Homo sapiens: one gene and its partner. The protein of the gene in region 2 interacts with the protein of the main gene of each other region in a biochemical or structural test. Each region holds a gene or a part of one and is shown on either strand. Other genes may lie near its edges.

What was found.
Region 1: the proteins of KAT6B (region 2) and RUNX2 form a complex in vitro, tested with the Homo sapiens proteins (one study listed by BioGRID).

The regions. Positions count from the first base shown.
Region 1 is NC_000006.12:45,328,345-45,339,964, reverse strand, and holds part of RUNX2 (runt-related transcription factor 2), read right to left. Parts: 5' UTR 11,505-11,620; exon of another isoform or gene 11,470-11,504; intron 11,305-11,469; 5' UTR 11,239-11,304; coding exon 11,181-11,238; intron 1-11,180. UniProt on the Homo sapiens protein: Transcription factor involved in osteoblastic differentiation and skeletal morphogenesis. Essential for the maturation of osteoblasts and both intramembranous and endochondral ossification.
Region 2 is NC_000010.11:74,827,501-74,839,120, reverse strand, and holds part of KAT6B (histone acetyltransferase KAT6B), read right to left. Parts: intron 439-11,620; 5' UTR 369-438; exon of another isoform or gene 338-368; intron 1-337. UniProt on the Homo sapiens protein: Histone acetyltransferase which may be involved in both positive and negative regulation of transcription. Required for RUNX2-dependent transcriptional activation. May be involved in cerebral cortex development.

The DNA of each region.
Region 1 (11,620 bases), on a different chromosome or scaffold from region 2:
TGATACATGTCTCATATAAGGGAGTTGTAAGAATTAAAGGAAATAATGTTTATAAATGGCTTAGCATAGTACCCGGTACAGTAAACGCTCGACAATGAAAGCTAACAAAGTACAGTTTCAATTAAGGTATACTCTATAAAAATTATAGACTATGTTAGTTACATTGATTTTTCAAAATATGTTGTCTAATTAAATTAAAACTTTAATAAATTTTAAATAATTTAAAACAACATTTAAAATAAAGTTTTGGATTAGATTGATTATGTACTTAGAATAGCTATTTGAACCTAATAGAAAAATAAGAATATTAATGTTTTTGGCTATAGTCATCTTATGGAATCCTCTGTACTTCTTATTTTCCTTATTAATATAGCTTGTTAAACACAACTTTATTTTTCTTATTAATATTACTGGTTAAACACATAACCATTGACTATCACCTCTATTGGAAGAAAAGGAAGGAAAGAAAGGAACTAATTTTTTCTTGTGAACAAGCTTTACAAATGTTTATTGGGGACACAATTTGGAATTAATATATTTTGGATATGCATTTTGTCTTTAGCTTATTTCTAGGAGTATTAAAAGTTGGCTATCTATTGGCTCACAATCTTGGCTAATTTATCTAGGGAGTTTTGTTTTAAAAAAGTTCTGAAGGCTTTCTCTCCACAAGCTGCTCTTCCCCAAGACTTACTCCCCAGGTAATTCTGTTGATCAGCCAGATTTGGATACCACTGTAACATAAGAAGTCTTGTATAGGCTAGTGAATTCTTTAATGGAATACTCTTTCAATCCCTTTTTTCTTAAAGCCTTATAGTCAAGTAATAAGATTACTTAGCCTTATAGTCAAGCAATAAGGCCATAACTATCTTAGTTTGCAAGATATTTATGGCAAGTATGTCTTCTTTAATGTAAATATTCTTATTTTTAATTTTTCTTCTTATATTACCTTATTTCTATGTTTTATGTCACCCTGCTTATTACATGTCATTTTATACTCACATGAGTGTAAATAGTTTATACTTATGTGTCTTCAGCTCAGGACTAGAATTTGTATGAGGCAAGCAAAGTGCCTAGGGCACAAAATTTAAGGAGGCTGTCTCTTTGAGGACTGTGCAAGAGTGAGTACCTCCTTAAATTTTGTGCCCTGGATGCCTCCCTTGTCTCATCCAGAGAAATAGGCTGCATATAAATTATTTTTATTTTAGTTTAGCATAATCTCATGCATACTTGGATGTTTTATAAAAAAATTGATGACAAAACGAAATAGTATAGCTGAACCCAAATTTATATTGCCCAGTATAAAAATAAATTAACTATTTGAGAAAGATAGTATTATTATTTTTATCACATGGTCAGTAACCCTCAGAGCTTCCTAAATTCCAGTTCAGCAGAATCTTGTTTGACACTGAAATACACTTGGTTGTTTTACCTACTGGCAGCTACCTGAAATCAGTGCTCTTGTAGCTGTCAAAGTTTCTTAATTCAAAATATAGTACCATCAGCTTTTTATATAAGCTTATATGTGATCATTTGAAGTAATCAGAAATGATACCAGTTTTATTGTATTTTTATTACTGATTTTAGAATTTCTTGAGAAGTTGCCTATAATTTTTTTTTTTTATGAGAGCTACATCTGGAAATGCTCAAAAGTTGTTTGCCTTTTTTGAGAGAACAATCTGCAGTGAAAGTATAACTTCTTTAGAGGTGATGTTTAAGTTAGCAAATGCTGAACCATAATGTGAGGAAGCATAATATTGTGAATTATTTGGCAAACATACCTAATACAGGCATTAGCTGTTGAAACCATTTGTAAAGTACAACTTACAGAAAGCTAGAAAGATAGGCTACACAGAACTTTATCTGTAAACTCTGAGGATGAAAACTAGAGTACAACTTAAGTTTATTCAATAAAGACTAAATTCTGTAAGTTTAAGTTTGATTTGTTTATAGGTTCCATGATTAATGTGTAATTAGAGTATGAAAGAAGCATTTAGAATCCTTTAAAATTTATAGGTGATAACATCATTGTCAAGTCAGGAGTTTTGTTTCTTAAAGTTAGAATTTACTTAAATATACTTTTTCTCTAAAAAAATAAAATCTTATTTCTACTTACAGTAGTACCAAAGTGAGTTTTCGCAAAAAGAATTATTTAATATGTATTTAATATTTGTTTCAAATAAACAAAAATAAACATAACAACCAACAGTGGAGGGGCGTCTTAGATTTGTTTTTAGCTTTCTTTTTCATGGCTTCTAGAAGTGTATCATATTATAAATACATTCAAAATGTTTTGCTCTGAGGATATGTAGCATTCCTATAAAGGTTAAATCAATAAAAATGATTTGGACACATTCCTAAGCATGGCTAGAACAGGTAGTCCGTTGTTTTAGGTACCCTTGAGTTTCTGGAGCAGATCATTATGGCGTAGCAAAAGAACTTACTAAAAGTTGCTTTCTATGTGTAGATGCATCAGCTTAAAAAAATAAGATTTTCTGGCCTTCTAGAAATGAGTATTTTTAGAGTAACCCTTGTATATATTGATTTAATTATATATTTTAAATGCAGTTAAAGTTTTGGAGCTTTTTTTTCTTCGAATGCTGGAGATACACCATAATTGATAAGGAAGAGGTACGTACAGGAAAAATGCAATGGCAAGCTTTTCCAGCAAATTTAGAATAAATGACAGTCTTATGGTTAAAGAAAGTATCACACATTATAATTGCAAAATAGGGATTGGATGTGATTCTTTTTAGTCTTGCCAGTTTAGAAAAAAATTCTGTAAGTCATTGGCATGTTGTTCTGTTCATATGGGCAGTTCAAAAGGCAAGCTTTAATTTGAGCTTTTATTTTAGAAAGCATATGTATATCTCCTATGTTCGGGGTTGGCTTCTCACTATATTATTGTTGCTATGTAGTTTTATGCATTTGCTTGCATTTTTTGTGTTCATGTCATAAGTTTTAAGTATGTAAGTTTTCAGATCACACTGTTTTCACAGCAAGTTTCAAAAAATATTTTTATGCCAGTTTATAATAATGAGTAAGGCCATTTTTATTAAAGTTTCCTTTAAAACAGCATTTAAGATGTTTCTGGATCAAAAAAATTAAGTGAATTGACCATGTATTTGAATGAAGAAAGTTTAAAACAGAGGTAGAAAATTTGAGTTACATGTATTATTAATGAAGTTATATTATAGAAAATCACTTCCTATCTTTTTGTACATCTAATATGTATTTACTTTGTAAGTAAATACTTTATTAAAAATACTGTGTTACAGTATTTCTTGGAGCACAGGATTTAATTTTATAGTCAAGAAAATTGTTTGAATACGTCTGAGTAAAAATTTATTGTACATATATAGAGTGGTTTAACCATTTAATAATTAAATAATTTAGCAATTTAAGCCAAGTATTTTGATGTTTTAAAAAATATTTAAGTGTATCTTGATAGATTCTGATTTTAGTGTGTCTTGTGTCTTGATAGGACCAGAATATTTATGAAAATAAAAATAAGCCTAATAATCAGCACATGGCTCTAAATTTTCTTCCTGGGTACTTGTGAGTGATAATGTTAAAAACAGATCACTTTATGTGTTTTCTCTAGTCCTATTGGTGTACAAAAATATTCTGCAATATGCTTATGCGTGTTATAAGGGAGGGATATTGTTAAATCTTTACTACATAATCAAGAATAAAGCTTTCGTGACAGTACTCATTGTCCTTATCTAGCTAACACTTTTAAAATGAAGTGGTTACTAGTGGTAAAAAGTTTTTAAAATGTTAAGTTTTCCTTCTAAATTACAGAGAGAGAAATAATGTATATGTGTTTGGTTTTGAAAACTGGGAGAATAGAAGAATTCTGGGTGGACACTGGAGTTTATAATATGTGAAAAGGAGTTTCTTCTGTGGAAAGGAGGTTGGATTAATGATCAAAAGTTGGAGTACATTGACTTGTATATTTCCATTTCTTTAGAAATACACTGTAGCACATTGTCTTTGTAAGTAGTATCTCCATAGGCATTATCTTCTTAAATATTTCATTTTTGCATTGACTCTTATAAGAGCAGTAGCAAGTTTTTCTGCATTTTGTCAAAAGCTGAATTACCGAAATGCTTTACAGATTTCATGAGAGGTAAAAAAATTAATCTTATTAGATTATCTTTTGTAACCATTTATCCTGCCTAATGTTAAGATGCTGTTGTCTTGATGGGAGTTTTCTCATAGATTACTTCATGGTGTCTTAATATTTTTGAATTGGGTGTTAGGTTCTTAGTATGAAATGCTTATGTACTTTCACAGGTATCAGCTTTATGGAAAACACAGTGATTGATATAATGTGGATTGTTAGCATAAAGAAGTTTCCTTTCTGTGATCCTGTACAGTTGTTACAGATATCTGTAATCTGACAGTTTATGAAATAAAATGAGAATTTACTTTTATCTAAAAAAATGTATTTTAATGAGCTGTGTTTGCATTAAAGTATCTTATAATAAAATTGTAATTGATTGAAGAGAATCCATACTGTGTACCTTTTTGATACACATGGATTTTCTAGGATCGTTATAGTGATACAGCAGTAGGTTGACATGTTGTAAAATGTAATACCATATTACATAGTAAAATAAATGTCATGATCCTTTCTTTTAAGCTTCAAAGTAAATTCACATTGTTTAGATACATTTAAATAATTTGTAATCATTTAGTAAAATTATATCTTTTCACTTAAAATTATATTGGGAATTTGAAGTCTTAAACTGGGAAGTTCAGTACAGAAATTTAAAAAGAAAGTTAATTCTAGCAATTATCATAGAAAAATTAGAAATTCAATGCTTAAATTGTTTACCCAGGTTACATGGTCAATGAGAAAATATACCTGTTTAGCTTCAAGCCAGAGTTGTTCTTTGAGATAATATTTATAAATAGGAATCTATTAGCAAATTAATTCCATTCATATTTGCCCTTATAAACTCTAATACTTTGTTTAACTGATATCAGTTTTTAATTATTGTTACTTAAGTTTATAACTGGAAAATAACATCTTTGGATTTTATAAGATTGATTATTTTAGTCTTGAAATTCCTAGTAGATGCCTAATCCCTGTTACTGGTTTTATAGATTGACATTTGTTAACTTACATGCAAAAAAATTTTGATTATATTTCATGACAGAACTATAGTACCTCAGTTACATAATTTACAATTTTTTTCCTGGTTTATAATCATTATTACAAGTTCTGTAGTCATTGGTGTGAATGCATTCACACTCATGCATGTGTATATGCCATGTATAAAAATGTTAAGACAAACATAGCCAGAAGAAATTTAAGTTGAACATATATGACACGTATTTTGTTTCGGTGTAAAAATACATCGTGTTCATGTGAAGTTCTGTGGAATATCACGTTATTATTCTGATATTTCTAAAGAAAGACTGCATATATATGTATTCAAACCTTATTGATGATTGTTATTGTGATTTGGCTAGCATTTAACTTTGTCTTTTTTTTTTTTTTTTTTTTGCTTTTCCTGAAGCACAAAATAGATGTAGGTGTAAGATACATGACTATAAGGAATATGTAAATAATGGTATGGTTCATGTAATTTAGGGGAACCTACAAATGTGTATTTAAGTTCTTGAGTTTTAACTTAGTCTATTATGTAAATATATGTTTATAGTTGATGGTATATAATGATTCTGGTAGACATCATTGATGTAAAAAATCGATGTAACTGAAATGTAAAATAAAATTACCTTATTTGACTTTGTGGTGAAAATTATTTGCCTTACATAGGATATTTAGATATACCTTTTTAGAAATGTCACTAATCTGATGTAACTAATGTATAATTAAGAGAATTGGCAATAGGAATAGTAGAGATAAAAGAGTCTTTAAACTGTTTGCCAAAATAATCTTAGATATATTTCTGGGAATAATGTTAACTTGGTAAATTTTCTAACATCAGTATGATAATTTTTAAATATCTCAAACATTATCGAAATTGCGTATGTATATATGTCAGAGATTTCCTTGTTTTGTGGGCAGTTGATTTAAAAGATGAAAATCATCTAATCAAGGTAAACATTTATCTTTTATTTAGAGCTCAAGTCACCCTTGGTATGATTTTTGTTCCTTGGGTGTATATTGGATTTATGAGTATTAACAAGAATATAGAGTAGAGGAAGTGCATGAATAACAATTTTTTTCTCTTCATGTATTAAGTACTTATGTAGCAACTAGCCTTTAAAGGCCTGTTTTAATTCTACAGCTCATCTTATTTGGGGATTGTTTTTTATATCAGGTTAAATGATATAAAAAATGATTGTTTTTTATATCATGTTAAATGATGCAGTTTCTGTTTATTAGTGTTTATGAAAAACTTTGCTTTAGTTAGGCTTCTTTCTATTCAGCAGTAACAACAAAACCTAAAGTGTTTGATAACATGTTGCTTACATCCACTCAACACTGTTCCAAATCTTGAGTCCTATGCCCTTAATAAATAGTATAAAGGGGAGGAAATTCCTAAGAATTCTACATAAAGTGAAGATACTGTATACAGTAAAAGAGCATTTAATCTGAATTGCTATACAGGTCTTAAAACAGTTGTATGGGAATGTATGGTCTGTTTCATGTGTATGTGCTGTTGAATGGACAAAAGCTTGTGGTTGACTGTGGTTAAAAATGTAAGGAAACTCCCTTTTAATAAGGTATAGAATTTCCCTGTTATTTTTTGAATCGTAACACATTAATCAAAAAATATATCCAGTGAATTTCATAATCTTTTTGAAATGGCAAGAGATTATATTAAGGCATAAAATTTCATTATGTGAGACTTCTTTTAAAGATTTGTTTTAAGATACTAACATCTCAGATTTGATGAAGAATTTTCACATGCTTTAGACAGTTAGCTTAGAATATTTTATTATTTAGAAAATACCAAGTATTGGAGTTCATTGTTATCTTTATTATGGGAGTTTTATGATTTTTTGGGGGGTGAGGAGAGGCAGAATTTTATCTATCTTCAGTGGAAGTTGCAGCGTTCATTGGTATAGGAGAAAAAATAGTACATTAAGGTAACGTATTGAGAAGTCTCTGCTTAAATTACCATTGGATCTGCTAGCACCTGATTAGTAATGTCTGACTTGTGAGTGACTAGAAAAAATAGTTATGCTTTGCCATAATTACAATTTTAGTATTTGCAGGAAGGATTTTTTTCACATTGAGTTGATGGCATTTGTCTATTTGGTCACATGTTTTTATATATTTTTAATAGATGCTATAGAGGTAGACTGTTTCGGTGAATCCTTCATATAAAATGTCTAAAGATTTTTGTTAGGTAATAGTATTTGCAGTTTTAATGCATTTAATGAGCTTTTGCATGACTTCACTATTGACTTAGAGTTGTCATATCTTAGTATCCTAGAACAAAGGTTAGAACAGTATGGAAGATTGGTATTTGTATGCTTTGGAGAGGGATTTGAGATGTTACCCTGTTTTGCCGTCAATTTTCAAGTATGCACGGGTGCATCATTAATCATGAGAAATGCAAAAATAAATAATATAGTCCCATTGGATTTTTTTCTATGAATACTTACCTTTTCCTTTTTTTTAAATATATATATACAGTTGAGGTATTTAGGTAACCCCTAACCTTTTGCTTCAACAAAGAAGTACAGTATAAAAATATTACCACAGTTTTCATGTGAGCAGCTCTTGAATCGGGGGGAGGGGGAAAGCCCTCTAGATGAATATTTGTTGAAAAAAAAAGTTGTGATACAGAATGTCTTAACTCAGCCTCAGTACAGTACTTGAGGACCACCAGTGTGTAAAATTGAAAGCACATGAATTTTGAAGCACTAGAAAAGGTTTGTAATTGATTAGCGCTGCTTTAAAGTATTGGAGTACAGTGAGTTTTGATTTGTGAATGGTTCTATTCAATAAATATTAATTCTGTGTGTTTGATAAAATCTTAGTGCCTTCAATGAGTTAGCTCCCCCCGCCCCTGCAGTTTATTTAACCATCAAATATTTCAGTGTTCTTTTAACAAACTGGAACATTTCTATCTTACCGAATTTAACTTTAGCATGACTGATTTAAACAAGTCAAACTATCAGTTGTTAGCTGGAAGAGAGTAATTGAATAAATTAATATTTTGTTCTTTTAAGATAACTAAAATATATCATAATGTAATCATGTATATTTCATGCCTTGTGATATAGAGACGGATTGATCAGGAGAGTCAGACAGACCAGCCAGATCTTTTTCCACAATTTCTTTTCAGTGTTTTAGATTTCAAAACATTTTTTAAAAATAAAAACTAAAAATCTTTAACAGTTTGTAATGTAAAATTAGGATTATTATAATTTAAAATAATTTATATGAGTCTTTGGGAATTACTTTGACATTTTTAGCTTTTGATATGTGTTAGAGTGATTTTCTGTGTTTGTTCTTAACTTTGTAATTCTGCTCCCTAGTTTTGGAATTTAGCTCTGTATTTTAAAAAGAAGCTATAAAACTTTGTCACTACTGAATCTTGAAACTATAAATATATTATTGATATGGACCACAATTGCTGTTTTGGAAATCAGTGTTCACACATCATGTTCAAGCAGTTACAAAGATTTTATGTAGATAATCAGTCAGCTGATATATTTTCATGAGTCATTAATTTTAAGATACTCTATGAGTCACATCTGTGATTTTCAGCAAGCTATATTTATGATAAATGATGGACAGATTTTGAGTAGTACAGATTGAAAATTTTTGATTAACTCAAAGTGAAGTATGCTGAGAGATCAAGGACACAGACATACTCTTTCTCTAGCATGTGCGCGCGCGCGCGCACACACACACACACACACACACCACTCATTGTATTTGAGGTGAAGCAGTTGTTAATGTGTGCTTTGTACCTCACCTAGGAAAATCCTAAACTTTCTTTTTAACTATTTTACAAAATTGGGGCACATACTTAAGACATTTCATTAGGTGGTGGTGATAATCATTATATAAAAATCTAAAGCCTGAAGTGAGGTTTTAGGCTTTGCATAGATTATAGAATGGGGAAATGTTTGCAATGTGATAACATATACATGATGTCCACTACTCACCTGTAATTAGTCTGAGGTAGTGGGTTGATGTTAAGTTCTCTATTCAGGCTTCAAGATACTGTTTGGGGGCTGGCGGGGAGGGAAGGTGCAGCCCACTTTTCAAAAGAGGAAGAACTGGTTGTAATGTTGGAAAAAAAAAAGGTTCACTACCATGCCTTGCTTAGAATCCTGTCAAGTTTTGGAAATTTTGAATAGTTATTAAGAATGTTACAGAAGTATAAGATCCCTGTTATGATAGAATAAGAAGCAGTTTAATATATTCTTTGTGAGAATTTTAACATATTCTTCATGATAACTTTACTTCTAATACTGAAGAATTTTTTGAAACTTGTGTTGTTCCTGATCTGGTTTTTAAAATGTGTTTAAAATAAATAGTTAAACAGAGTGATAACGTGAAAGAGTAACTTAACTGCCTCTGTTATCCCTCCCTGATATCTCTGTTATCCCTGTTTCAAGTTATCCCTCTGTGTAACAGTAGTTTTAACTATTCTTTTTCCTTTTATCTCTTGGGTAGTAGTAACAAAACTTTCGATGTATAAGCTGTAATTATGCTATGTGTTGTAATGTAGTCTAGCTGTGTTTATGTCCTGCTTCCTTAATATAGAAGTTTTTAGAGTAATACTTGGTACCCATCATTAAAATTTTAAATTAATCTGTGATTATTATATTGTATATATTATAACTGAGGGGGCCCACTTACAGCTATTGAGGGAGTCACTAAAGCAATTTTACATTTTTTTTTGTAAAATACAAAGTACATTTCCTCACCCTGTAAGAGAAACCATTTTTTCTCCCTTCAGGTTTAATTATTTCTGTTTGACCTAAACTGAGACTGATCCTCTAGTAGTATCCAGTTAAAATGTGTGAAGTAGGAGGAGTAAAGGAAACTCCAGTCATTAGTTGTAAGTTAAAAGCAGAGTTAATATAGATGTACACAGCAAGAAGGTTTATTTTAATGGATATAAGAAAAATTTTTGAAAACTTGCCTTGTAGTTGGAACATGTTGGAGATCATAAAGAGAATCTTGTAAGTGTGTTTAGATATTTTGCTATAATAACACATCAGCTGATGAATGTTAAAGTCATTTACATATCTGTATCAACAGTAACTTGAAATTAAATATTAAGGGACAAGATTATGCCTACTTCTTTTAAAGTCCAGCATGGTTTAATAGTTGTGGCTTTTAAAAATCATACAGGGTATCCTTATGGAGCTTTATTTTTCATGAGACTAAACAGCAGTTATTCATTTTGGTAGGTCCAAGAATGTGATTAAAAGAATCTTAGACGTTTCAGTGTTTCAGTGTGTTTATAACAAGGTCTATGGATAACAGTGTGTAGATGTAAAATTAAAATTACATAGAAAAATGCAGTTGCATGTAAGTTTTAAAATACTTCCATGAACTTTTTAATATCCTGGGCAACTATAAAGATCTTTTAAAAATGGCTGTGATGTGCTTATCATAATTTTATTTCAGCTGAATGTATACTTATATAAAGTTGTTTAGAAACAAACTTATTTAGATAGGATACAGTTTGAATTTATAAGTAGATTTCTTTTAGTTGAGCTGGTTAAAATGTTAACTGTACTACAGGTTTATTTCTGTGTTATACATGGTAGACCATAATGTTGAGATAATTCTGTGGTCTGTTATTTTGTAAAATTGCTTCCTTTTTGAAGTTTGCTCAAATATTGGGAGCTGCCGGAGTCAATAATTTATAATGCTTTGATTAATTTAGGATCTGACTTTTCTTCTGGTGAGGGTTAATGAGAGTATTAAACTGTTTCTTTTACTGTTTTCATATCCTCACCTCTATAACTCTAGAAAACATTTTGATCAATGTGAGATAATTTAATTTTGTATATTTCAAGTCATTACTTTGAAAATTAGATACATTACAGATACCAAATGCAAATATATACAGAAATTTCATTTTTCAATTCTTAATGCAACAAGATAGCATAATTAGGATCTTTAATATGCTATTTGGAAAAGCTAGCAGTTTATCAAAGAATCATACCTTTATGTTTAACAGGTTCATATCTTACAGGATTTTAAAAATGGTAACACTTACCCCAAAAGAAGTTTTGCTGACATGGTGTCACTGTGCTGAAGAGGCTGTTTGATGCCATAGTCCCTCCTTTTTTTTTCAGATAGAACTTGTACCCTCTGTTGTAAATACTGCTTGCAGCCTTAAACTGAAAATACAAACCATACCCAAACCTTGTTTTAGTTTTACAGTATGCCTGGAGTACATAGACTTTATATTTATTTTTTTCTGTCAAGAAATTATGTAGCTGGTAACATGTGAAAAGCAAAGAAACAAAACAAAAAGAGAATGAGCAAATATTTGAAGGACCTACTATTACTGCATAGACTGTGGTTAGAGAGCACTCACTGACTCTGTTGGTCTCGGTGGCTGGTAGTGACCTGCGGAGATTAACCATTTAAAAACCAGAGACTTCTTGCTGTCCTCCTGGAGAAAGTTTGCACCGCACTTGTGGTTCTGTGGTT
Region 2 (11,620 bases):
AGTGCAATGGCATGATCTCGGCTCACTGCAATCTCCACCGCCCAGATTCAAGCAATTCTCCTGCCTCAGCCTCCCAAGTAGCTGGGATTACAGGTGCCCACCACCACGCCCAGCTAATTTTTGAATTTTTAGTAGAGACAGGGTTTTGCCATGTTGGCCAGGCTGGACTCAAACTCCTGATCTCGTGATCCGCCCACTTCGGCCTCCCAAAGTGCTGGGATTACAGGCGTGAGCCACTGCACCCAGCCCACAAATCTTTACCCACAATCATTTATATCCATAAAACAATTGTTTATATCCATTACCAACACATTTCAATAAGATTGTCATTTTATACCTTAAAAATGTAATAAAATAAGGGAAAGTACCAGAATTGGAACTTCAAACGTTTTAACAGTCCATGACAAAAATGGAGATTATCCAGGTCTTCAGGCAAATCTGCCAAAAGAAAAAAGGAAATGTTCATTTGGACATAAGGACATCCTTAAATTCAGCAACCATCCGTGTATCTCCACAACCATTCAAGACAAACAGCTCCAATGAGTTATTATACTACATTTGGTGATATAATAATTCTTTTAGACCACTGAAGGATTCTTATAAATATGAAACTTGAGACAGAAAATGAAGCCCCAAGGACCCAGCCAAGTGCCTATAGAAGTAAATTTCATCCCTAAGCCCAGACCTGTTCAAATTTTAAAAATCAGGTTTGTGATAGATTCCTAAGAAAAAATCTCATCATGGAAAAACAAAACAAAAACAAAAACCCACTACTACTCAAATAGCCAAACAGATATAACATTTATCAGAAAAAAAGACAGTCAAAAGTTGTTTTAAGGTCAGCATTCACATTCCTGGGCAGCATTCGCTGTTTGTCCCAAAGGCCACCAGGCACCTAGGTACTGAATGGACTACCCAGATATGACCAATAAGCTCACCTACAAGAAAAACGTACCAGTTTACATAATAGTAAATATGTATTGACACAAGTCACATTTTAGGACAGCAGTGATTATTTTTACTTGAAAAGCAAAAAATAAATTTAAAAGAACAATTGTGAATAACTGCATTTTGATCTTACGTAAAACAATCAAGCAACCTTGGATCCTCCTTCTCCCCTCCCCCAGCCACGACACACACCCCACTCCTCGATTTAATCTCAAAATTAGCTCTCATCTGACACCAACCAACAGAGTTAATTAGGCAGAAGCAGATGTAACTCAGCAGCTCTTTGCTACAAGCAGAATCACAGTGTTCAAAAAAAAAAAAAAAATACACAGCTAGGAGAGGAACAAAATCAGAAGTCTCTTATCTGTAGCCAATTCTCAACTAAACACATGTATATTATCCACTTTGTATATTATCCACCGCAAATTTTTTAATCTTAGGCTGATTTGTTTCCAACATCCCACTGGCCCCACTGTAAATTCATATAAGCAAGAGAATAGATTGAAAACCAATTTCATTTTAGCCTAAGCAGTATCTAACTGGAAAGACAAATCCACAGGAAAAAAAAATGCATAATTCATTCAAAAGCCAAATAGAAATGATTTTTTTTTTCCTGATTTGGAATTATCCACACTATTTCTCTTTTTCAGAGCATGGGGATTTGCTTCACATGTAGATAGGACATTCTATCACAAGCGAAAACCCTAAAATCATTATTCTCTTTTCATTTTTTTTCTATAAAAACTTGAAGGTTGGACTAAAAGGCTATCAAAAAGGTAGCAAATCATCCTAAATTAATTCTGGGGATTTGTGCTACATCAAATTAAATTATTCTATTTTCTAAGGTTGTGAATCATTTTATTTTTAACTACAAAATATCAGTAAATTATATGGTTGTATCATACGGTCTTATAATATAACACTATTTACATCATTCATTACAAATATTCTAAACATATCTAGAGAAATGCTTAGTCCAGCACTGAGCTTTTAGCTTCACTGGTATTACATAAACATCAACACTATTCAGAAATATTCATGTCAGCATAAGAAGAGTCAAAATATCCTGGATCATAAGTATTATGCGAGGCCTCCTCTAAGCTTTTACTAAAGCTGTGTGTGTTGTTTCAAAATCAATGTCATAACACTCAAGTCATGAGATTATGGATGAGGCAAAAAACAGTGGTAGAAAAAAACAAAGATTAATAATAGAGTTTACACTTTTGTCATCCTGAGTTTTACTTGCTAACAGTTATTTTTAACTATTTTACTTTCATAAGTCCTGGCTTTTTCTTTCTTTTTTTTCCCCAAAGGGATCACTGTTGGAAAACCTGGATTTTTTCAAAGCCCATTGTGTAACTGAGTGAGCATCCACAAATCTAAGCAGTATCTTCCGAAACAGAACAGAACTGTTTAGGGGAAGGGACCTTGACTTATTTTTCTTCTATCAGCACCCAGCTCAGGTTATTGGCAGAGTTGCTCAAAATAGTGTCCTTGGTTAACAAATATCTGTTGTCTGACAACATGAAACGCCATCCATATGGTGATATTTCTTATCTTTCAAATCCTGGATGCATCTATTTCCTCTGAAATCAATGCTTCAGGCCCAAAACATGTGAACTGGGAGGTGAGGTTATAAATACTAATCAAAGAAAAACCAACAAATATTTAGCGAGCTGATGCTCCCTGCATGCAGCCCTGTGGTAGGTACTATGGGGAATACAAAGCAAAGCTAGAGACAGAACATATAAGAAGCAATTAAGAAATAGCAAAGCACTGTTTGGCGGTTCCTCAAAAAGTTAAACACAGAATTACCATATGGTTCTGTAATTCCATTTCTAGGTATAGACTCAAAAGAATTGAGAACAGATACTCAAATAAGTACACGTACACCCATGTTCATAACAAAACTATTCACAGTAGCCAAAAGGTGTAAACAGCCCAAATGTCCATCAACAGATGAACAGATAAACTGTGGTATATCCATACACTAGAATACTATACAACTATAAAAAGCAATGAAGTTTCGATACATGCTACTACAATGTAGATGGACCTCAAACACGTTATGCTGTGAAAGAAGCCAGACACAAAAGGCCACACATCATATAATTTCATTCATATGAGACATCCAGAATAGATAAATCCATAGACAAAACACAGATTGGTGGAGTCTCAGGGACATATCTAGAGAAACTGCTTAATGGGTAAGGGGTTTTATTTGGGATCAATAAAAATGTTTTGGAACTTGATAGTGGCAGTGGTGACACAACACTGAATGTACTAAATGCCACTGATTTGTTCACTTTTTAATGGTTTTTTCATTTTATGTTATGTGAGTTTCACCTCAATAAATTGTTTAAAAAAAAAGAAATAACAAAGCACTAAACTATAATAATAATAATAATACCAACCATTTCCTGACACCTACTGTGGTCCAGGTACTTTACATAGATTATCAGTAAACTTTAAAACAACTCTGTAAGGTAGCATTGTTGTTTTTACAAAAGGAAAACAGGCTTGACTTAGCCAAGATCTCAGAGCCATTAAGTCATGAAGGATTTTAATTCAGATGCCAAAGCCCAAACTCTTTCTGTCTCTCCAGAGGTTTTCAAACTAGGCTCTTTAGATCTCTGTGACAAGGAGTTACTTCGGGTATTACCTTCAGGTACCCCTTGTGGGTTAAACTTTGGGCCATTGCAGCACCTTGAACCCAACAGTGCAGCTCCACTTTAACTGTTTTACATATATTTGTCTTCCCCATAAGATTCGCTTTAAAGGAAGTGTTCCTCTGATTACAGAAGGAAGAAGTCTGGAAACAACTGTGACTATACTACCTTGCTGAAACCACGTGGAGGATGGATGAACATCTCTTGGATGGATGGGACTGAAACTGAACCTTGAAAGATAATGCTGAGCCTGGATAAGTGCCCCACCGTCCCTCTGCCCAAATTCAAATCCTTCATGGCCCAGTGCAAACAACTTCTCAAAAGCCCCAAACATCTTTGTCTAACAGGAAGCTTTTAGCTTTTTTACTGTTTTGACATTCATTTCCCACTTAGTATTATGCTTACTTGTGTATTAACCTTGTCACCCCTACTAGACTATAAAATTCTTAAAAACAGGATTCATGCTTGATTCATCTTTGTATACCCTAAGATTTCCCAAGACCACAACTTGATCATAAGAGGGTTTCAATGCCTATTTGCTAAATAAATGTATCGGGGAATGAATGAAGGAAATCAAAGTGAAATAACAGAAGCTAAGAATGAGCTGTCAAACAAAAGGGACACCAAGTCCATGTGCCTGACTAGAACAGGTATATGCTCAAAAGGGATAAAGAAATTAAGTTGGGCCAGGCACAATGGCTCATGCCTCTAATCCCAGCACTTTGGGAGGTCAAGGAAGGAGGATTACTTGAGGCCAGGAGCTCGAGACAAGCCTAGGCAACACAACAAGACCCTACCTCTACAAAAATAAAAAATTAGGTGGCTGTGGTGGTGTACACCTGTAGACCCAGCTACTCGGGAGACCGAGGCAAGAGGATCTCTTGAGCCGCCCAGGAGGTTGAGGCCACAGTGGGCTATGATTGTGCCACTGCTCTCCAGCCTAGGCAATAGAGCAAGACTCTGTCTCTAAAAAAGACAAATATAATTTAAAAATGAAAAACAGAAATAGGCCAGGCACAGTGGCTCACACCTGTAATCCTAGCACTTTGGGAGGCCAAGGCGGGCAGATCACGAGGTCAGGAGATTGAGACCATCCTGGCCAACATGGTGAAACTCCATCTCTACTAAAATACAAAAAATTAGCCAGGCGTGGTGGTGCATGCCTGTGGTCCCAGCTACTCGGAAGGCTGAGGCAGGGGAATTGCTTGAACCCCGGAGGTGGTGGATGCAGTGAGCCGAGATCGCGCCACTGCACTCCAGCCTGGCAACAGAGCCAGAATCCATCTCAAAAAAAAAAAAAACAGAAATAAAGTTGGCTGTGAAAAAAGCCAAGCTGTGGTGTGTGAACGTGACAGATGAATAGGAAGCCACTGCAGGAGCAGGTGACACCATAATGCACAGGGAAGGGCATGCACATACACACACAAACCTGTTGAATGTTTGAATCACTCTGGCAATAGTAGCCATCTACTCTGGAGGGAAGGGTGATTGAAAGAAAAAACAAAAGCAACCAGTATTTCATCTCTGCAAACATCAATCTTGTTCAACTTATATTTATGAGCCTAACTCAGCAGCAAGCCCAGAGCAGGCACTCAATAAAACGCTGGTTGAACTGAATATTTAATTCCCCATCTTTTTAGAGTAACACTAAGTTCTTTCCCACTACTCATTAACAAAGAGAGTTTTCAATTCATAAGCTAATAATGTTTTCCAAGGATTTCTAAGAGGCTAAATCACCATAAAAATTATCATTTCAACTAATACATATTATATTAATTGCAAGTTTAATTTTTCATGTCATGCTCTCCTAGTTGACAATATCCTTGTTATGTCATTAAACTATAATTGTGTAAATGTGCTTCAACAAACAATAACTGAACCATCAATAAACTATTATGGTTTCCATAATCCCTAGCAAAGATTAGTTTCAACATCATCATCATAAATTAGTAGAGACAGGTCCCAAATCTCCTGGTGAAACCCATGAATTAGGTTTGCATAGTTATCCCTGCATTTAAGTGCTCAATAGTTTCAGTCTCTAAAATTTAATCACACTGTTAGGAACCTCACAGGAAATTTGATCCCTTGTAAAACAGAGGAATTTAGAGACAAGATGAAAAGTCATTTGAAGTCATCAGGTCTTTGGAGCCAGGGTACACTGATTAGTAATGATGTATTATAACTAAGCACTTTCACTTAAGAAATAATCAACTAAATTTAGAGTGTCTTTTTTTGGCATTTAAAAATTCCTATTCAATCCTAGATTTCTCCCTAATTACAAATTAGCTTTAGTTGGTTTTTGATGACAAAGACCGAGAATAATGTATTAAGGGAAAAAATGTGATTTTTTTTTTTTTTTTTTTTTTTTTGAGACAGAGTCTTGCCCTGTTGCCCAGGCTGGAGTGCAATGGCGTGATCTCGGCTCACTGCAACCTCCGCCTCCCGGGTTCAAACGACTCTCCTGCCCCAGCCTTCTGAGTAGCTGGGATTACAGGCACATGCCACCATGCCATTGTTTGTTTGTTGTTGTTGTTTTTATTTTTAGTAGAGACGGGGTTTTACCATGTTGGCCAGGCTGGTCTCGAGCTCCTGACCTTGTGATCCAGCTGCCTGAGCCTCCCAAAGTGCTGGGATTACAGGCATGAGCCATCATGCCCGGCCAAAAAATGTGATTTTTAAAAAACTTTTTAAAATAGAGATACAAGGCCAGGCTTGGTGGCTTATGCCTATAATCCCAGCACTTCGACAGGCCAAGGCAGGTGGATCACCTGAGGTCAGGAGTTTGAGACCAGCCCGGCCAACATGGTGAAACCCCATCTCTACTAAATACAAAAAATTAGCAGGCGTGGTGGCGCATGCCTGTAATCCCAGCTCTTTGGGAGGCTGAGGCAGGAAAATTGCTTGAACCCAGGAGGTGGAGGTTGCAGTGAGCCAAGATTACGCCATTGCACTCCAGCCTGGGCAACAAGAGCAAAACTCTATCTCAACAAAATAAATAAGATAAAATGAAGATACCAAAAAATCTAAATAAATAAATAAAAATAGAGGCGGGGGTCTCCCTATGTTGCCCAGGCATGTCTTGAACTCCAGGGCTCAAGGGATCCTTTCACTGTAGCCTCCCAAAGTAGTGGGATTACAGGCATGAGCCACTGCACCTGGCTGAGAAAAATCTGACATCTTAACTTTTTTATGATTCTTTTGAAAGAGAGATTATTACAGGATTCTTTGTTAACTGTATTACAGATGTCTTCAGACCAGATATCCAGATACCCTGAAAAATTCAGGTTCCCTTTTGAGAGTTTCATAAATATTATAGCTCTACTCTAAAAAATAAGCACATGTACCCATATACACTGGTATACATTTTTAAGGGTTAACAGACCTTCTGTCATCCAGCCATGGACCACTTAAGGTCCACTGGCTATATACAGAGAGGTATTTTATCCAGTTTCACAATAGTTAGCTTTGTGTGCTTTACTTAAGGCATGTTACATCAAGAGTAAGAAAGTTATTCTTTTTGGTTTTGGATGTTATCAAAAAACAGGTTTCTGACATTTTAATCAACAAGTAGGTGTGCTGTGATGGGAAGTATCAGAGTCAGGGATCCAGTCCCCATTCTGCTAGCTACCTAGGCTAGGGGATATTGGACATGCTACTAAATCAATCTAAGTCTCTGTTTTCTCTTCTGTAAAAATGAGAATACTTCTCTGTTTTACAGAACCGTTAAGAGGAATCACTGAGATAACAAATATGAAAGCAGCAAGGATGATGGCAGACACATAGCAGGAACACAATAAAATGCTAGCTCATAAAAGGAAAAAGGGCAATACAGTCAGCTGGAGACCTGTAAAATCTAATCTGGCTGAACTTCTGTCTATATGACCATTTTCTCCTAAGAGACAGGAGAAGTCAGCACCTGGCTCTTAGTTATAGCTGCAGAGAAGTAAAAATTCAAGACAGAGAACAGAAAAAAGTGAAGGAAAGCAAAAATAGATTGTAATGGTGAGGCTGGGGTCAAGAAGAGTGTATTTTACTCATAGTTATACATTGTTTAAGGTCAACAAAGCTTTAAAAAGATAGTACTGCATAGGAGAATATCTTATTGACCTCAGGGTAGGAAAAGTCTTAAAACAAGACACAAAAGGCACTAACCATAAAGTAAAGACCAATAAATTTGACTCCATTAAAATTAAGAACTTCTGTTCATTAAAAGACACCATAAAGAGAGTGAAAAGGCAAGCCACAGTATTTGCAACACACACACATGACAAAGGACTTGTATTCACAGTAAATAAAGAACTTCTAAATAGCAATAAAAGATACAAGGCCCAACTTTTAAAAGCAGGGTGGGAAAGACTTGAACAGAACTTTATAAATGAGGCTATCTAAATGGCTAAAAAAGTATATGAAGAGCTGGCCGGGTGCAGAGGCTCACGCCTGTAATCCCAGCACTTTGGGAGGCCAAGACGGGCGGGTCAACTGAGATCAGGAGTTTGAAACAAGCCTGCCCAACATGGCAAAACCCCATCTCTACTAAAAATACAAAAAATTAGCTGGTTGTGGTAGTGGGCACCTGTAATCCCAGCTACTCAGGAGGCTGAGGCAGGAGAATCGCTTGAACCCAGGAAGCAGAGGTTGCAGTGAGCCAAGATCACGCCACTGCACTCCAGCCTGGGTGACAAAAGCAAAACTCCGTCTCAAAAAAAAAAAAAAAAAAAAAAAAAAAAAAAAAAAATATATATATATATATATATATATATATATATATATATGAAGAGCTGTGCAATCTGATTACTAATCAGGTAAACGCAAAATTTACCATATTGGCTAAAATCATAAAAGCTAAAAAGGCTGAGATTGGAGAGGGCGAGAAGCAAGGGAATTCATATATTGCTGGAGGGAGTGTAACCTGGTACAATACTTTAGAAGAGTTTGGTACTTAGTAAAGATGAAGACAAGCATACCTTATGACTAGGTGACCATACAATTCATCATCTAACCCTAGATACTTTTGAAAACTAAAAGTGTTACAGTTACGCTGGGAAAATAAGCAAAAACCAGGACAAATGGTCACCCTAGCTATAAACCGGCAATTTCATTCCTAGGTGTATACCTTAGAGAAACTTGTGCACATGGGCACCAGATGACAGGTATAGGAATGCTCATAGCAGCTTTGTTCACAATTGCCCCAAACTTGAAACAACTCAAATATTCGGCAACAATGGAATAGATGATACGAAAATTGGTGTATTCTCTTTCTGGGGTCTGCGAGAAGACAGGTATCAGAAGATCATGGGAGTTCTATAAAAAGATGCTTAAAGGTGCTTTGGAAATGCAAATTAAGGCATTAAAGGGAAGAAATATCCCATCACCCCACTTCTCTCATCCACGCATCATTTACCATTCTGCAACAAAGACTGATCACTACAGCTTACACATCCCTACTTACATAAAATATTTTTCTTTTTTTTTTGTTTTTTTTTTTTTGAGACAGAGTCTCGCTCTGTCGCCAGGCTGGAGTGCAGTGGTGCAATCTCAGCTCACTGCAACCTCCGCCTCCCAGGTTCAAGTGATTCGCCTGCCTCAACCTCCTGAGCAGCTGGGACTACAGGCGCCCGCCACCATGCCCAGCTAATTTTTTGTATTTTTAGTAGAGATGGGGTTTCACCATGTTGGCCAGGATGGTCTTGATTTCTTGACCTCGTGATCCATCCACCTCGGCCTCCCAAAGTGCTGGGATTACAGGCGTGAGCCACCACACCCAGCCACATAAAACTATTTATTTAATCCCAGCACTCTGGGAGGCCGAGGTGAGTGGATCACCTGAGGTCAGGAGTTTGAGACCAGCCTGGCCAACATGGCGAAACCCCACCTCTACTAAAAATACAAAAATTAGCTGGGCACATGTCTGTAATCCTAGCTACCCGGGAAGCTGAGGCAGGAGAATCACCTGAATCCAGGAGGTGGAGGTTGCAGTGAGCCGAGATCGTGCCACTGCACTCCAGCCTGGGCAACAGAGCAAGACTGTCTCAAAAAAAAAAAAAAAACTATTTCCTTTTCTCTCAGTACAAATGTAGGCATGTGTAAGCACGTGGAAAACTGAGGGTACACTGTAGAGAACTAGGAGACTGAAAGCCAGATCACTTAGTTACGTCTTTTACTAATTGATACGTGAAAGTCCATGAGAGCTTATGAAGCACATTAAAATTATTAAACTTCCTCATCTACTTTCTAATACTCATGCTATTTACCTTTCATTCATGCTATGCCTCACATCTGACAGTTTCCACCCAATCTTCAAAAGCAGTGTGTGAAATAAACACATGCTATAATAGCAATGACATAATATCCACTCTACTCAGAAGCCTAAGTGTGGCTAGTAAGCAAAACTTCCTCTGCCGACCGTGTCATGACCATCAGCCATTCCCTAAATTCCTCTTTTAATGTTAAAATCTTCCTCTGTCTCTCTCTTTTCTTTTCTTTTTTTTTTTTTTTAAACCATCACTTCACCACTCCAACCTTTAACTCTCAGTAGAAGTTCTCGGAAAAGAAAAAACATGTGCATTATCCTTTCCTTCTTAAAAACATAAAATACTGTCCAAATTCATTCTGATAAATGTGTAAAGAACTTATGAATGGCCGGGCGCGGTGGCTCACGCCTGTAATCCCAGCACTTTGGGAGGCCGAGGCGGGCAGATCACAAGGTCAAGAGTTCGAGACCATCCTGGCTAACACGGTGAAACCCCGTCTCTACTAAATATACAAAAAATTAGCGGGGCGTGGTGGCAGGCGCCTGTAGTCCCAGCTACTCCGGAGGCTGAGGCAGGACAATGGCGTGAACCCGGGAGGCGGAGCTTGCAGTGAGCCGAGATGGCGCCACTGCACTCCAGCCTGGGCGACAGACTGAGACTCCGTCTCAAAAAAAAAAAAAAAAAAAAAAAGAACTTATGAGTAAGAAAAAAATGGAGTGTTTTATTTCAAGGCTATGCCAAAAAATCTAGGGTATACAAGTAAGACAGGAAGAATGCACTTTAAAAAAAAAAAAACACAAAAAACCTTCTTGGGGCCCCATAGAACTAAGACTGTTCGAACACAACTAATTTCCATTTGCTATTTCCACCTTCTGTCCATATAGGAGGGGCCCTCATATGCTCTACCCTGAATTTCCTTGGTACCTCCAACCCCAAACATACTTGGTTCGTTGGTCTTCATTTCCTATTTCCCACATCTGTAATTCTTTATCACTACCCCTTCACAACTTCTGTCTAACACTCTCTTTAACACGTCCCAACACCTTCTACCAATTACAGGGCTTAAACTCCTTCATGGGGCATAGGACACCATTTGTAATCTAACCCCTCCTCTGCCTTTGCCTGGTCATCTCCTACCACTCCCTGCACTCTGCCCACAGCAAAGTACTAGCAAATTCAAAGCTATGCAAAATGTCCTATCCCAAGGTATGGTGCATGTCTCTTCCTGGGATACCCTGCTGCCGGACACTCCCTTGAAGACTCCAGATCAAGTTTAACATAATGAATCCAGCGTATCACGGGTCGCCATAGCTCACGTCTGTAATCCCATCAGTCAGGCAGAGGTGGGCAGATCACTTGAGGCCAGGAGTTCGAGACCAGCCTGGGCAACATAGTGAGACCCTTTTCTCATTTTTATAAAAAATAATAAATACAGCCTATCAAACAACTTGTCTCCCAAACTAACACCTTTCTCTGCCCCATCCTCACCCCTGGCACAGTCCACCAAATCACATTCACCGAAAATTACTGTACAGCTCCACCCACTTTCTTCACACCTGCCGCCTTGTCCCACCCCTACCAATCCCTTGTCCCCAGGAGATTTTCTGCCACAGATTTTGCAAGTTCTAAGCAGCCTCTCTCCCCTTCCTTCATATTTAAGTTTGCTCTGCTGTCTTAGCATCATCTTTCAGAAACTCTCCCAAGCACAACCATCCCATCCTTCCACGTTTTTAAAAAATACTTCATACCCCA